2 separate regions of the Homo sapiens genome follow, and region 2 is linked to region 1. Evidence: fine-mapped expression QTL. A gene starts in region 1. The other region holds a variant in brackets. All regions are shown on one strand. Distances are between the middles of the regions.

Region 1 (8,312 bases):
CCTAGTTGGCCTGGGCTGCTGCGTGGTGACTGTGCCCTCTGCATCCTCCATGCCTGCCACTCCCCTGTTGCTCGGGTGCTGAGCGCCTGGTTCAGGCCAAGGATGCAGCCTCCGCAGCAGGGTGTACTGTGCTAGGTTGTTCTGTGTGTATGTACGCGGCCACGAGGTTTGTTCCTGGCTGTGGGGCTGCTGGGCCTGGGCAGGGCCTCCTCCGTCTGTGTATCTTGGTGGGTTTGGGCCTGCCACCACACTGACACCTCCTCCGTGTCACCTCCCACAGATCTGGGCGGACCCCGGCAAATACGCCCTGATGGGAGCTGCTGCCCAGCTGGGTATGTCCCAGCTCTTGCCCGATGGGTGGGGAGCTCCACGGGGTCTGGAGGGGGCCATGGCTGTCCTTGCGGGGCTAGGGTCTGGGAGCAGGTGGATGGGATGGGTGCTGCAGAGAAGGCAGTGGCCACGTGACCCTGAGCCAGGAGGGTGGACGTGCTGGGGTTCATGATGGCTCCCGCAGGCGGGATTGTGCGGATGACACTGAGCCTGACCGTCATCATGATGGAGGCCACCAGCAACGTGACCTACGGCTTCCCCATCATGCTGGTGCTCATGACCGCCAAGATCGTGGGCGACGTCTTCATTGAGGTGCGCCAGGGCCTCGAAGCCTCACCCTGAGAGCGTGGGTGCTGCCATAGGGGAGGGGCCCCTGTGAGCCTCCAAACAGCCGGTCCCGGGGGGTAGGCTCAGGGTTTCTGGGGGCGGCCTCTGGGCTCCCAGGGGTAGGCTCGGGGCTCCAGGGGTGGGTGTGGACTCCTCAAGCCCTGTGTTCCCGCCCCGCCCGCAGGGCCTGTACGACATGCACATTCAGCTGCAGAGTGTGCCCTTCCTGCACTGGGAGGCCCCGGTCACCTCACACTCACTCACTGCCAGGTACAGCGCCCAGGACACCTGTGGGTGGGGAGGGTGTCCAGCGGCCTCTTGTTGCACAGGGGCAGGGTGCACGGCTTGCGGGCTCCAGGCAGCCCCGCGTTTCCTGTCCAGCGGCTTCACACCTCACCAGCCCGCAGAGGTAACTGTGGGAGTTGGTGGCGTGTGACGGGCATGTGTGGCCGGGCTCCTCCGGCAGGGAGGTGATGAGCACACCAGTGACCTGCCTGAGGCGGCGTGAGAAGGTCGGCGTCATTGTGGACGTGCTGAGCGACACGGCGTCCAATCACAACGGCTTCCCCGTGGTGGAGCATGCCGATGACACCCAGGTACCGGGCACCCCATAGACAGGGTCCTGCCTATGTGACCTCTGTCGAGTCCATTGGTGGGAAGCACACGGCAAGGTTTGCAGGATGGGGAAGCTGCACGTTTGGGTGCACTGGCAGTTCCAGGAGTGCCGGAAGCTGAGTGTGCAGCCATGGAGGGCTGTGTGGACGCTGAGGCTGGTGGGGGGGGCTGCGGCCTGGCAGGGTCTTGGGGTTGGCACCCAGGCTGGGCTGAGAGCCGTGGCACTGGGGGCCGTGACTTTGTCAGGAGGCCCTGACAGGACACACAGCTCGGCCACTGCTGTGTGTCTTTTAGACGTGGACACTGGGTGTTTGGAGGTTGGTTTTTATTGGGACCCAGTGGGGCTGCATCTGCCCTGCAGCAAAGCCACCATCCCTGGGCCCTTGGCTCTCTGCTGTGCGCGGTCAGGCCCCGCTACCCTGTCGCCGATCCTTGGGTCCCGTGGCATTGTGCGTGTGGGATGCCATGGCGAGGCTGGTGTGAGCAGGTAGCCACCGACACGGGGCCCATGCCCAGATGGGAAATCTGGCCGGAACAGGGTCAGAGCGGGGCCCGACACAGCATTCCAGCGCAGCCTCCCACCCTCGGGCCCGTGGCCCTGACCGCGGGCCTGTCTTGCAGCCTGCCCGGCTCCAGGGCCTGATCCTGCGCTCCCAGCTCATCGTTCTCCTAAAGCACAAGGTGCGTGCCAGGCTCCGGGCCATTGGGCGGGTGGGGGCCCCGGGGGTGCTGCCTGGGTGCCTGACACAGGGCTCTGCCGCCCGCAGGTGTTTGTGGAGCGGTCCAACCTGGGCCTGGTACAGCGGCGCCTGAGGCTGAAGGACTTCCGAGACGCCTACCCGCGCTTCCCACCCATCCAGTCCATCCACGTGTCCCAGGACGAGCGGGAGTGCACCATGGACCTCTCCGAGTTCATGAACCCCTCCCCCTACACGGTGCCCCAGGCATGTGCAGGGCATGGGCATGGGCGTGGGGCCTGGGACTGAACAGCAGGGGGTGGGGTCCAGAGCCTCGGGGAGGGGCAGCCGGGGGGGGCCACAGCGGAGAGGACTCGGTGACTCTGTCTCCTGTGAAGGGCCTGGCAGGCTTTAGAGCTGAAGTCAAGGGGCTGAGGGGGCTGGCCAGACGGGCGTGGGGGCTCAGGACGTGCCTGGACGCCGTGGTGGGGGGTGCAGGGAGCCAGCTTGGGTGAGGGTCCCGCCTGCCTCTGCTGTGTGGGCGGGCACTGACAGCTGTGCCCCTGCTGCAGGAGGCGTCGCTCCCACGGGTGTTCAAGCTGTTCCGGGCCCTGGGCCTGCGGCACCTGGTGGTGGTGGACAACCGCAATCAGGTGAGCGGGGGCGGTGGGGGTGCAGGCATGCCGTGCAGGGCTCCCCTCTGCCTCCTGCCCGTGCTTACTCTCAGCTCCCGGCAGGGGACACGGAAGCACAGGACCCAGCACCGAGTCGGCCCATGCCCCATGGCTGCACCCCTCCCCAGCCCCGTGCTCAGCTCGGGGGCTGTGCTGAAGCCCCCAGGGCCCCCTGCCTGTGCTGCCCCAGCCACACACAAGGCAGGGAGCTCCACAGGCAGGCGGGAGCCGACCCGTGTGTCACTGTGGCCTGGACTTGTCCTGCAGGTTGTCGGGTTGGTGACCAGGAAGGACCTCGCCAGGTACCGCCTGGGAAAGAGAGGCTTGGAGGAGCTCTCGCTGGCCCAGACGTGAGGCCCAGCCCTGCCCATAATGGGCACTGGCGCTGGCACCCCGGCCCTTCTGCATTTCCTCCCGGAGTCACTGGTTTCTCGGCCCAAACCATGCTCCCCAGCAGTGGCAATGGCGAGCACCCTGCAGCTGGGCGGGCAGGCGGCAGGCGCGGAACTGACCCTCTCGCGGGACTGACCCTGTTGTGGGCAGTGGTCTCCCCCCTTGGCGCCTCCTTGCGCAGGCCCAGCCTCCACTCTCCTCGTCTAGGTTTCTTTACCTCCAGGGATCAGCTGTGTGTGTGTGACCTCCCTACCGGGCTATCGGCCTCTTGGGAGCCAGCGGCAGGGCCGGCACCTGCGTGCCTGTGCCCGTGTGCGTGAGACAGAGCCCTTGCCCCTGCTGCTGCCCCGAGGGCTGCCCTGCCCTGGAAGGGCCCCTCTGCCTCCACACCAGTGGAGTCTTCGAGACTTGGGAGCTGCTTGGCCTCATTTTCAGCCATGAGCAGACGGCCTGTGGTCCCTGGGCCTGAGGCACGGACTCGTAGCACCAGGGTTTGGAGGCTGCGACCGCCCCGGAGAGCAGCTTCACACTGGCGCCACAGAGGAGCCCCACGTGCACTCCCCGGCCTGCATCCGGCTTGGGTACACAGGCCCAGAGGACTGGGGTGACTCACGGGCCCTGTGCTGTGATGTTGAGAGCTGAGAAAAACCTCCAAGGCCCTGAGCCCCATGCCCAGCCCTGCCTTGGTCCCCCAACCCCCAGAGCTTGGAGTCTGGGCCCCACACCCAGCCCTGCCTTGGTCCCTGAGCCTCAGAGCGTGGAATTGCTGCCCTGTGGACACTGGCTGGGAAGGCAGGTCTTCCCCTAGCACATGGGGACCCCGGCCTCGAGGGTGACCTCCCTACCCCGCCCCTGCCAGCCACCAAGCGCAGGTGCAGCGGGGGCCAGACTCCTGCCGGCCTCAGAGGACACCTGGCCCAGCACAGGCAGCTAGAAGGGCCGGTGGGCACCGGGGCCGGGAAGCCCCCACCTCACCACCTGAGGGCCCCTGGGAGGCTCCTCTGGCCTGGCTGGGCTGGGTCTGGGGCCGCCACAGGCCCCTCACGGGGCGGCAGAGGCAACTTCAGTGTCCCTGTTAGAGCAACACGGGTCCCTCCGTGGGGGGCTGGGTGCGGCCCCCTGCCGTGTATTTCCTCCCCAGGGAGTGGGGCCTCCCCGGGAGCTGACGCCACCACCCTGCTTAGCCCTCACAGGGCCCCAAGGTGTCCGAGTGTGTTGGGTCTGAACGCGAAATAAAGAAATCCTCTCAGCCCGCCTTTGCCAGCGTCGTCCCTCCCACCCCACCCAGACCACGTCCAACAGCCTGGGACTTTCGGGACCCTGGGGTCGGGGCACCGTGTGGAGTGAGAAAGGCGTGAAAGACAGCGGCTGCGGCCACCCAGGGCACCAGCCACATCCTCTTCCTCGTCCCCGCCCCTCAGCCTCCCTCCTCTGGCTCCTGGCTGGTGGGTCTGGGGGCAAGGCAGAGGCGCTCCAGGTGGAGGGGGGCGGGCCGGGGTGCCCACGCTGGGGTGACGCAAGAAGAAAACTCCCGGGCCTCAGAGTCGGCGCCGGAAACCTAGGTCTGGGTTTCCCTCGTGGTGGTTGTGTACTGAGGACCTGGAAGTGATCATATTTTGGATATATTCGGTTAAATAAAATCAGCGGTTAGGATTCACATCGCTGCTTCTTGCCTTTTAATGGGGCTGCTGAGCAAGATGGGTTCCCGTGGAGCCCGGCTGTGCCCCTCACCCCGATGGCGCTGCCCAGGCCTCGGGCTCCGCTCGGACGTGGGCCTGGCTGTGTCCGGGGTGTCCTGGGGCTCTCGGCCTCCCTGCTCCCAGCGTCCCTCCCGGCGTGCCCAGGCCTCGTCAGGGCCTCCTTCCCCTCCCTCGGCAGCTGAAGAAGTCCCCTTTGCCAGAGGACACGTGTCTGCGCCCTCTCGGGAGTGGGGCCCCTCAGATCCATCCAGAAGCAGGCAGTTGGGGGGCCCTGCGGGAGTGGGAGAGCTGAGGGCTAGAGTTCCATTGGCAGTTGGGCTGTGAAGCCGTGAGGTTCTGGGGAGAGAAGGAAGGTTCTGGAACGGCCCCGCTGCCCCACACCTGCCTCCCTGGGGACCCTGAGAAGGCAGCCAGACGAGGGCAGCAGCTCGTCCCTCAAGGCCCAGAGCTCTCACGGGACTTCCTCTGGCTCCTGACCCCCCTGGCCTGTGCCCAGCTCTGGGCAACCTCAGAGGCCCCAAGGCCCAAGCTACAGCCGAGGGCAGGGTGGCCGGTGCAGCCCAGCAGCCATGTCAGGTGACCAGAGCGGAGGAGCGGGGCCCAGGGAGGGGCTTGCCACAGGTGTGAGGGTGGGGACCGCTCTGCTTCTGACCCCGGGCTCCCTCCAGCTCGCTTGTTCCTGCCGCCCAGTGCTGTGTGTCTTCAGGCAGGGCCCTGGACTTGTCTGAGCCAAGCCCGTCTGGATCCTGTGTGACCCAAGGAGACGCGTTGAGCTCTGGGTGGTGGGCGAGGGTCCTGCGGGGGTTTGGGGCCTTGTTCCCGTAAGCTCCAGTGGGGGCCGGGCCCCAAGGGGCAAGCTCCCAAGATGCCTCCTTGTAGAGTTGGCTGACAGTGGACCCTCAGGGGCATCGGCCCCTTCCCAGCTGAGAGCCGTCACCCTGGAAGACCTGGGGCTCCTCCTGGCAGGAGGCCTGGCCAGCCCCGAGCCCTTGAGCCTGGAGGAGCTCTCGGAGAGGTATGAGTCCAGCCATCCGACATCCACGGCCTCTGTCCCCGAGCAGGACACCGCCAAGCACTGGAACCAGCTGGAGCAGTGGTGAGCCCTGCAGGGGGTGCTGGCGGGGGAGGACCACGTCGCCGCCGCCTCCGCCTCCACGGCGGGCACCGCCAGACTCGCCCACTCTCGCCCCGGCCAGGGTGGTGGAGCTGCAGGCCGAGGTGGCCTGCCTGCGGGAGCACAAGCAGCGCTGTGAGCGCGCCACGCGGAGCCTGCTGCGGGAGCTGCTCCAGGTGCGGGCCCGCGTGCAGCTGCAGGGCTCAGAGCTGAGGCAGTTGCAGCAGGAGGCGCGGCCGGCAGCCCAGGCCCCCGAAAAGGAGGCGCCGGAGGTGAGCGGCTCCCCCACCCACAGGTCGAGCTGCCCCTTTCCTGGGTGTTGGGGGCAGCTGCTTCTGGGCCTGGAGCCCAGCTCACCCCTGCTGCCCAGGCCCAGAGCTCCCAGGGGCCAGTGGTGCCGGAGCTGGGTGGACTCCAGGGGCAGGTGCCAGACCCGGGCCTAGGTCCAGCCCACAGCCTCCTCTTCCTCCTCGCAGTTCTCTGGTCTCCAGAACCAGATGCAGGCCCTGGACAAAAGGTACCCCCCACACACCTAGGGGCACAGGCCCAGGGCGGGGAGGTGGTGGCGAGAAAGCAGCGGCAGGTGTGGTGGGGGGTCCACATCTCCCGCTGGGTGTCGCTGGAGTGGGGGATACACATCCAGGTCCAGCTAGAAAAGGCCGGGTTTGTACGTGCCTGGGCGGCCTTCAGAGGCCCAGGAAAGCCATGGGAGGTGGCCACAGGGGCCCCTTGGCCAGACCCCCAGCCCGCCGAGGCTGCTCAGCCCGCCTGGGCCTCTCGGGAATGGCTTGTTGTGTCCCAGGCTGGTGGAGGTCCGGGAAGCCTTGACCCGGCTCAGGAGGAGGCAGGTGCAACAGGAGGCGGAGAGAAGGGGCGCCGAGCAAGAGGCCGGCCTCAGGTGGGCGCCCACCGCCCGTGGCTGGCTCCGGAGCTTGCGTGGGGTCATTTGAGAGTCCCTGGCTGAGCCAAGACACGGGTCCCCCTGCCGTGTGTCCCCAGTAACCCGGCGGGGCACCGCCCTCGGTGCCAAGCGTGCTGGGAAGCCTGGGCCCGCTGCGGACCCTCTGTGGGGAAGAGACTCGCAGCAGCCCTTCCCTGCCACCGGTGCTGTGTTTCCCATTCCTCTGTTTTCTGGTGGGGCAGGGGGCGGGGGTCGTACACCTCCTGCCTGGCCAGCCTGTGGGTCAGCCTCACCCTGCTGGGCCCTCCGGCCAGCTGGGCTGGTGTGACCACAGCCGACTTCTCTAGACTGGCCAAGCTGACCGACTTGCTGCAGCAGGAGGAGCAGGGCCGGGAGGTGGCCTGCGGCGCCCTGCAGAAGAACCAAGAGGACAGCAGCCGGAGGGTGGACCTGGAGGTGGCCAGAATGCAGGTACCACCAGGCCCAGGCTTCAGGGGGGCCGCCCAGAGGGCCGAGGAGGAGACCCTAACCCTCTCGGCCTGTGCCATCCGATACAGCGGCCGTTCACCATGTATCTGTGTCCACTGAAATCAGCTATAGTTGTAGACAATGTAAAACTCAATTCCTCAGCCGCACATGCCCCATTTCAAAAGTTCAGGTTGTTTGGGCACGGTGGCTCACGCCTGTAATCCCAGCACTTTGGGAGGCTGAGGCGGGCAGATCACAAGGTCAGGAGTTCAAGACCAGCCTGGCCAACATGGTGAAACCCCATCTCTACTAAAAATACAAAAAACTAGCCAGGTGTGGTGGCGGGCACCTGTAGCCTCAGCTACTGAGGAGGCTGAGGCAGGAGGATTGCTTGAATCCAGCAGGAGGAGGTCACAGTGAGCTGAGATCGCGCCACTCCAGCCTGGTGACAGAGTGAGACTCCATTTCAAAAAACAAAACAAAACAAAAAAACAAAAGCTCAGGCCACGTGCAGTGGCACACGCCTGTAAATCCCAGCACTTTTGGGAGGCCGAGGCGGGAGGATCGCTTGAGCCTGGGAAGTCAAGACCAGCCTGGGCAACACAGCGAGACCTCATCTCAAAAAAAAGCTCAGTTGCCACGTGGGGCCGGCAGCTGCAGATCTGGGCGCTCTTCGTCCCAGGAAGCTGCCTGTGTCCTGCCGCCTCCACCCCTCCCCACACAGCCAGCGCCTGCCCGGGTCCACAGATCGCAGCCCCGAAGCCCCTTCCACGGCCACTCTCGGGCTCCACCTTTCCCTGCACACAAAGCGGAGTTCACCTTCCTCGAGGACACGAGTTCCTAGAAGCCAGGGTCCCACCCACGGGGCTGGAGTGGCTCCCCCTCCTGCTGTGGCCTCAGCAGGGGCCTCCGCTGTGGGTGGGGAGGGAACGGGCAGCTGCACATTTCAGCAGCCCGGGTCTGAGCTCCACAAATAGAGACCGGGGACTGCAGCCAGCTCCCGTGCGCATCAGGCAGTACGCTGGGTGAGGGGCCAGGACTGCCGGGGCACCCAGCTGCCACCCACATAGCTCCACTGCCCGGAGCCGGCAGCCTCCCTCTCACTGCCCTTCA
Region 2 (8,312 bases), 50 kb after region 1:
AGGTGAGCCTGCGGGACCGTGCTCAGAGGACTCCGGCTGGTGGGCGTCCTTCCCGGCCCGTGGCTCGCGTTGCCCACCCCGGGGTTCTAATGGGAGGGCTGCCCTTGTGGCACCATCATCCCCGGGAGGGGAGGGCATCTCCAAGCACAGTGGCTGTGGGAGGTGCCATGGAGGCCCACGCGTCTGTCCTGGGGATGGGCCTCCCCACCTACGCTCAGTGTCTCCCATGCAGTCCCCTACCGGGGCCCCTCTGCCAGGCAAGGGGACGGAGCACTGCAGGAGGGACCCCAAGCCCAGCTGGGACCCCCGTGTGCCCCACCCGTGCCTCTGGTTGCAGCCACGCTCTCCAGCCTGTGGGCTGCATGCTGTCTCCTCACCCAAGCTGCCAGGGGCTCAGGCACTGTCGTCACCTGGGCTCAATCTTGTCTTCACAGCTGGCAGCTGGGACGCCGGGTCCTTAGGCTGAGTCCCAGGGCCAACAACCCAAGGGTCGCCCTGCCCAGGGTGCACACAGGACCTTCCTCCACCGCCTGAGCCCCAGCTGTCCCCTGGGTCTGGCTTGTGGGTTTGGCACCTCGCAGCCTGCTTGCCTCTGAAGCCCCTTTCTCCTCCTTGCTCCAGCCCGGCCTTCTGGTTGTGCCTGGCCTGGCTTGCCTCCTGTCTGCAGTTTGCACCTGAGAGGGGGGTGGGGGGGTGCAGACCCCACAGGGTGTCTGGATGCCTGGGCCATGGCCTTGGCCTCCCTGAGGCCCTGTCTGTGTCCAGCTCTTCCTTTGAGCAGAGAGCCACCCTCGCCTCTTTTGAATGACCTGGTGCTGCCTCGCATGCCCCGGAGAGCACCTGTGCTTCCTTTGGGAAGGACGCCCCACTCCTTGTTGTTATGCCACGTTCAGTCTCCCTCTGAGCAGCTTCCGAGTAAAGGACCTGAACGGCTGTAGAACAAACCACAAATTAGTGTCTGAGATTTTGTCATCGCCCGTCATGGAAAGAAAATAAAAATTATTTTTTCAACAGGCACTTAATGTGTCCCATAAATACAAATCAGTTACAATAAAGCAGCTAGAGATTCCACGAAGAGTAGAGGATTTTGTTTTTTTATGAGACAGAGTCTCACTCTGTGGCCCAGGCTGGAGTGCGGTGGTGCAGTCTCAGCTCACTGCAGTAGGAACATAGGTAATTTGAAATTGGTGCGGAGTTTTAAATTGTGGGATCAAAACTCTCGCTTCCATTTTATAGAAAGTTGGCGAGGAGACAGCCCCGTGCTGTCTGGGCGCCCGGCCTCACTGTCCCCAGGAGGTTCGGCTGCTTCTCCCCTGCGTTCTCCACGTCCGTGAGGGTGGCTCTGACTGAGACTCAAGTTAAATTCTGTGAAGAACAGCCCCGGGGCTCCTGACCCCATCCTGGCACTGGCCGGGCCTGCGTGTCCGTGAGCGCAGAGCTGCGTTGCCTGTCACTCCAGGGCCCCATGCCCGAGGCCCCTCCTGGTGGGAGGCAGACACCCCTGGGCACACGAGGAACCATGTTTTCCTGTGTCCCCCTGACACCTCCTCATCCCCAGGTCCACGCCCTGCCCCAGCGTGAAGCACGGGGGTCGGGGTGGGGGAGCCAAGTCCTCTGTGTCCCCCTGACACCTCCTCATCCCCAGGTCCATGCCCTGCCCCAGCGTGAAGCACGGGGGTCGGGGTGGGGGAGCCAAGTCCTCTGTGTCCCCCTGACACCTCCTCATCCCCAGGTCCACGCCCTGCCCCAGCGTGAAGCACGGGGGTCGGGGTGGGGGAGCCAAGTCCTCTGTGTCCCCCTGACACCTCCTCATCCCCAGGTCCATGCCCTGCCCCAGCGTGAAGCACGGGGGTCGGGGTGGGGGAGCCAAGTCCTCTGTGTCCTCCTGACACCTCCTCATCCCCAGGTCCACGCCCTGCCCCAGCGTGAAGCACGGGGGTGGGGGGCAGGGAGCCAAGTCCTCTGTGTCCTCCTGACACCTCCTCATCCCCAGGTCCACGCCCTGCCCCAGCGTGAAGCACGGGGGTGGGGGGCGGGGAGCCAAGTCCTCTGTGTCCCCCTGACACCTCCTCATCCCCAGGTCCACGCCCTGCCCCAGTGTGAAGCACGGGGATGAGTGGGGGGAACCCTCACGCTGCGATGGCGGCGACGGCTGCCAGTATTGCCACTCCCGCACGGAGCAGCAGTTCCATCCCGAGGTACGTCCCTCCAACCCCCCAGGCGTAGGGGTCGCTGGAAGGTCCCAGAGAAGCTGTGGGGTTCACAGCGTGGTTATCACACAGAAGGAACAGTGATTAACTTTGGCCGAGGGCTGGCACAGGTCGGGAAGCCTGGGGGTGGAGGCATGAGGGCTGTACCTGCTTGCTTGTCTTGCTTGCTGGCCTTCGGGCTGCCCTCAGCCAGCGAGTCTCTCCACTTGGCCTGTAACAGAAGAAAGAGTCATGTGGGAAAAAAGCAGAGAGAAAATGTCAATTAAAAACATACATATTCAGGTCTGGGTGCAGTAGCTCACGCCTGTAATCCCAGCACTTTGGGAGGCTGAGGCAGCTGGATAACGAGATCAAGAGATCAAGACCATCCTGGCAAAACCCCGTTTCTACTAAAAATGCAAAAAATCAGCCAGGCGTGGTGGCGGGCGTCTGTAGTCCCAGCTACTCAGGAGGCTGAGGCAGGAGAATGGCGTGAACCCAGGAGGCGGAGCTTGCAGTGAGCTGAGATCGTGCCACTGCACTCTGGCCTGGGCAACAGAGCAAGACTCTGCCTCAGGAAAAAAAAGAAAAAGAAAAAAATATATATATTCAGGCCAGGCACGGTGGCTCACACTGTAATCTCAGCACTTTGGGAGGCAGAGGCGGGCAAATCACTTGAGGTCAGGGGTTCGAAACCAGCCTGGTCAACATGTCTGTACTAAAAATACCAAAATTAGCTGGGTGTGGTGGTGCGCGCCTGTAGTCCTAGCTACTCGGGAGGCTGAGACGCGAGGAGCACTTGAACTTGGGAGGCTGAGACGTGAGGATCGCTTGAACCCGGGAGGCAGAGCTTAGAGTGAGCCGAGATCACGCCACTGCACTCCAGCTTGGAGGACAGAGCGAGACTCCATCTCAAGGAAAAAAAACAAAACAAAACACATGTTCAGGCCAGGCACGGTGGCTCACACTGTAATCCCAGCACTTTGGAAGGCTGAGGTGGGCACATCACTTGAGGTCAGGGGTTCGAAACCAGCCTGGTCAACATGGTGAAACCCTGTCTCTACTAAAAATACAAAAATTAGCCAGGTGTAGTGGTGCGCGCCTATAGTCTCAGCTACTTGGAGGCTGAGGCGCGAGGATCACTTGAACCTGGGAGGCTGAGGTTGCAGTGAGCCAAGAGTGCGCCACTGCACTCCAGCCTGGGGGATAGAGCAAGACTCTATCTAAAAAAAGTAAAATCCTCAGCCAAGGGGGAGGCGTGCAGGGGCTGGGAAGGACCAGGCGCTGCTTCCCGTCGTTTCTTGACTCATGTTGTCACAGACGCGCATCATGCTTTCTGGGTGTCGGTGACCACACACTCAATGGTGTCACCAGGGGCCTGTCGGGAGTCCGGTGTCCGGGGCGTTTTCTGTGTTCAGTCACGCAGGCCTGGTTGCAGACCCCAGTCTCTGGTACCCAGCTGAGTGGAGCTGGCACCACGTGGGCCACAGCCGCACCATAAATCCTGAGGGAGATAAACCCTCCCGCCTGGGCCCCGCCCCAGGTAAACAAGGACTCTTCCGAGGCAGGAGGTTCCTGGGGCGGAAGGGGCAGCCTGAGATGGAGCCAGGCCTGTGCCTCCACTAGAAGGTGCAGGGTATGGACGGTACAGGGAGGCTGTGTTCACACCCAGCCGTGTAGTTGCCAAGGGACCATACTCAGATTTGTATTAAAAACAAACAGGCCAGGCACAGTGGCTCACGCCTGTAATCCCAGCACTTTGGGAGGCCGAGGCAGGCAGATCACCTGAGGTCAGGAGTTCGAGACCAGCCTGGCCAACATGGTGAACCCGTCTCTACTAAAAATACAAAAATTAGCCAGGTTTGGTGGCTCATGGCTGTAGTCACAGCTACTCAGGAGGCTGAGGCAGGAGAATTGCTTGAATCCAGGAGGCAGAGGTTGCAGTGGGCCAAGATGGCACCATTGTACTCCAGCCTGGGCGACAGAGCCAGACTCTGGCTCAAAAAAAAAAAAAAAAAAA[AT/T]GAACAGACCGGGCACGGTGGTTCACGCCTGTAATCCCGGCACTTTGTGGGGCCGAGGTCAGGAGTTTGAGACCAGCCTGGCCAACATGGCGAAACCCCATCTCTACTAAAACTACAAAAATTAGCCAGGTGTGGTGGCACATGCTTGTAATCCCAGCTACTTGGGAGGCTGAGGCAAGAGAATCACTTGAACTCGGGAGGTGGACGTTGCAGTGAGCCGAGATCTTGCGACTGCACTCCAGCCTGGGTGACAGAGCGAGACTCTCTCTCAAAAAACAAACAAAATGAACAAGCAAACGGGACCCCACCGGGTGCCCGACGTGGTGGAAGGGCCATGGGGGGGTGGGGCCAGGCCGGAGGTCAGGAGAGAGGCTTCCTGCTGGGACCCAGGCAGGTGTGGGCACTGGAGGCCTGGCGTGCCAGGTGCCGTGTCCTTTACGGAGAGCTACGGAGCAGGAGGGGCTGGGCCAGGCCTCCCAAGGCCGACTGGGGGCTTCCAGGCTGGTCTGTCCCTTGCCGGGTCTTAAGTGTTGTTGACCTCATGAGAGGGGCTGTCACCCTAGGTGAAGGGTCAGTGGGTCTGATCAGGGAACAGACACACGTGTTCCTTTTAATAGGCACTTATTAGGCACCTGCTGCATACCAGACTCTGAATTTGGTGCATCTTTCAGAAAATATCAAGCGGGGAAATGACTTTGCCTGTGATGGGAGGGCAGATGCTGCGGGAATGGCCCCACATGTGTGCGTGTTCCCTGTGGGTCGGCTCTGCAGAGAGGAGGGATGTGGGGACCAAGGGCACACGTGGAGGAGGGCAGGGCCCACGCCCCCCTTTTCAGGGGTGTCTTGTTACGATTTGGAGCTTAATCCTCTCCCTTGGGATGATGCCAGCTGTGGTCTTTCCACAGAATCCCATTTCCAATCCAACCTCTTTATTTCACTTTTTTCCCCAGATCTACAAATCTACAAAATGCAACGACATGCGCCAAACCGGGTACTGCCCGCGCGGCCCCTTCTGTGCCTTTGCACACGTTGAGAGTGAGTAACCGTCCCTGTGGCAGGTTCACCTTAGCAGGTTCCGCGGCTCTGCAGGCCCTCACTGGAGTTACCGATGACCCGGAGCTGCCCACGAGGACCTGGAAGGCGGGCAGGAGCTCAGCACCGTGGTTGGGGGCTGGGGGTCCCTGACATGCCCGTGGAGGCTCCCTGGGGTGTTTGTGCCATGTGAGGCTGGGCTCCCTCCACGCCGGCGTGGGCCAGGCCTGGTGGAATCTGCAGGGACCCTGTCTTCAGGCACGCTGGGGCCCTGAGCCTGGAGGCTGAGTCCTGGTGTGGGCTGGCTGGCACCTCCACCTGCCTCCTGGGCATCCAAGCTGGGTCCTTCTGCCACCCACTGCCTGGGCCTTGCTCCGAGACTGCCATCTTGCCAGGCACCCACCCAGGAGCACCACCTCCCTTGTGGAGAGAGGGGGTCTGTCCGCCCCAGCTCGGGGAGACAGCAGAGACCCTCAAGCAGGGTTGCTCAGGGTGACCCTGTGCTTTCCAGAGCCCGTTTGCTGTCCAGGGGATGAGGGCTTAGCTTTGGCGATTATGTGGTCCCTAATAAGTTCCCAGCAGCAGAAACAAGCCCCAGTGGGAACCCACGCGGCCTCCTCCACGCTGCAGTGGGTTTCCTTCTGGCAGCCCTGGGGTTTGGGTTCAGTGGGAACCCACGCGGCCTCCTCCACGCTGCAGTGGGTTTCCTGGCAGCCCTGGGGTTTGGACTCAGTGGGAACCCATGCGGCCTCCTCCACGCTGCAGTGGGTTTCCTCCTCGCAGCCCTGGGGTTTGGGTTCAGTGGGAACCCACACGGCCTCCTCCTCCCAGCCCTAGGATTTGGGTTCCAGGTTTTGTGTGTGTGGTCACAAGCTCAAATTTTCCTTTGTTTTTTATTTTAGTGGGGAGGGCAGCTATTCTTGTTCACGTTTTAAACATTGCTTTTAGTGTTAAAAACATGAAAAACTGGTCTAAGACCAGAGGGTCCTGTTGCCCTGAGTGTCCCCACCACTGCCCAGCCGTCCTCTGCCGCACCCCTGAGGGATGATTGTGACGAGGCTGCGCACACTCGGCCCTGACGTGTGGTGCGGAGACTTCTGCGTGTCACTGTCGCCCACCAGCGGCCCTCAGAGTCTGCTGCTCCCCTGTCCTTGCAGAGAGCCTGGGGATGGTGAATGAATGGGGCTGTCACGACCTCCACCTCACGAGTCCTTCCTCCACGGGCAGCGGCCAGCCGGGAAATGTAAGTGAACGGCCTTCCCAGGACAATGCCCAGTGTCCTTTGGTTTAATTGAACTCTTAGGGATGTGGATGGATATGAGTTTTCAGCAATGTGGTCGTGGGCAGTCTGTGGAGTTCGTGGCTCTTCTAGAAGAGTCTAGAAAAATCCTTGCCACTAGGCTGGGGGCAGTGGCTCACGCCTGTCATCCCAGCACTTTGGGAGGCTGAGGCGGGTGGATCACCTGAGGTCAGGAGTTCAAGACCAGCCTGGCCAACATGGTGAAACTCCATCTCTACTAAAAATACAAAAATTAACCAGGTGTGGTGGTGGGTGCCTGTAATCCCAGCTACTCAGGAGGCTGAGGCGGGAGAATCACTTGAACCCAGGAGACGGAGGTTGTGGTGAGGTGAGGTCCCGTCATTTCACTTCAGTCTGGGTGACAGAATAAGACCCCATCTCAAACAAAAAAAGAGGGGGGAAGAGGGGGTTGGGCTTCTAGGAAGGTAAGGCTATGGGGGAGACTGGCGGAAGGTAAGAGCAACTTCAGTGAGGTTGGTTATGCAGCCTCAATCTGCAGTCTCTCCTCCTGGTGTGGAGAGGGGAGAGGACACCTTCACAGAGGGAATTCACGCCCGGCTTCGAGGCAGGAAGGAAGCAGAGAGCTGCTCCTGCATCTACTGTTTCTCAGCTGCCTTCAACTCAAAATAATCTTTTTGTCAAAGAGTGGCATGTTTTGGGGTGGCACACTCTGACTCCCTTCATATATTTCTTAACAGTTTCACCTGAGCCTCTGCCTTAGGTGAATGGCTCGGTTTGGGGTTTGATGCCATGGTTGGTTCAGGGAGTGCAGAGCTGGCACCCTGCCTTCACACGGACCAACCCAAGGTCAGAGAGCCACGTTCAAATGTAAGAAATGGAACTCAGGGCCGGGCGCGGTGGCTCACGCCTGTAATCCCAGCACTTTGGGAGGCCAAGGCGGGTGGATCACCTGAGGTCAGGAGTTCGAGACCGGCCTGATGAACATGGTGAAACCCCATCTCTACTAAAAATACACAAATTAGCCGGGCGTGGTGGCGTGCGCCTGTAATCCCAGCTACTCCAGAGGCTGAGGCAGGAGAATTGCTTGAACCCGGGAGGTGGAGCTTGCAGTGAGCTGAGATCGCGCCACTGCACTCCAGCCTGGATGACAGAGTGAGACTTTGTCTCAGAAAAAAAATGAAAAGAAAAGAAATGGAACTCAGGAGAACCGACAGGGAGCCAGCAGGTTCAGGCATCTCTTCTGTTTCATGAGACCTTCGAGATTTGGCATCTTTGGCCAGTTGCAGTGGCTCACGCCTGTAAACCAGGCACTTTGGGAGGCTGAGGTGGGACAATCGCTCGAGGTCAGGAGTTCGAGACCCGCCTAGGCAACATAACAAGACCCTGTCTCTACAGAAAGCTTTGAAAAATTAACTGGGTCCACTGGCAAATGCCTGTGCTCACAGCTTCTTGGGAGGCTGAGACAGGAGGATTGCTTTAGCCAGGGAGGTCATGCCACTGCACTCCAGCCTGGGAGACAGAGCGAGATCCTGTCTCAAAACAAAACAAAACCAAAAATAGCATTCGTCTAAATTCTGAGCAGAGCTTATGTGTGTGTGTGTGTGTGTGTGTGTGTGTGTGTGTGTGTGTGTGTATCTTTAAGGGACCAAGAGTACTGCTGAATAGGTACATATATATTGTGTGTGTGTGTGTGTGTGTGTGTGTGTGTGTGTATTTTTTTTTGGAGACAGAGTCTCACTCTATCACCCAGCCTGCAGTGCGGTGGTATGACCTTGGCTCACTGCAGCCTCCACCTCCTGGGTTCAAGCG

Direction of the effects. Positions count from the first base shown, and alleles are read on the strand shown. Sizes are in standard deviations (SD) of each study's normalised expression.
For the expression in macrophages of the gene that starts at base 5,052 in region 1, allele AT in region 2 goes with a lower level than allele T (large effect, 1.1 SD a copy in Alasoo 2018).

What was found. PIP is the estimated chance that this variant, and not a neighbour inherited with it, causes the effect. A credible set is the group of variants that fine-mapping cannot tell apart.
Region 2: its variant is the best candidate, but not a certain one, in a credible set for the expression of CCDC154 in macrophages (Alasoo 2018, PIP 0.70).

Annotation. Positions count from the first base shown.
Region 1 is chr16:1,441,296-1,449,607 of GRCh38, reverse strand. CCDC154 (coiled-coil domain containing 154) reads left to right here and starts at 5,052. Exons shown (of 17, transcript NM_001143980.3): 1 at 5,052-5,292; 2 at 5,596-5,812; 3 at 5,913-6,102; 4 at 6,307-6,347; 5 at 6,633-6,728; 6 at 7,079-7,202. The coding sequence starts at 5,286. It overlaps CLCN7 (chloride voltage-gated channel 7), which reads left to right. Exons shown (of 25, transcript NM_001287.6): 18 at 281-332; 19 at 515-642; 20 at 842-927; 21 at 1,124-1,253; 22 at 1,894-1,953; 23 at 2,040-2,216; 24 at 2,522-2,602; 25 at 2,891-4,673. The coding sequence ends at 2,977.
Region 2 is chr16:1,391,064-1,399,375 of GRCh38, reverse strand. UNKL (unk like zinc finger) reads left to right here. Exons shown (of 15, transcript NM_001372107.1): 5 at 1-2; 6 at 2,081-2,198; 7 at 5,161-5,245; 8 at 6,400-6,485. Among named protein-coding and RNA genes, the nearest start is that of UNKL-AS1, 13 kb to the left of the region's middle. The variant AT/T (reference allele first, on the strand shown) is at 4,210.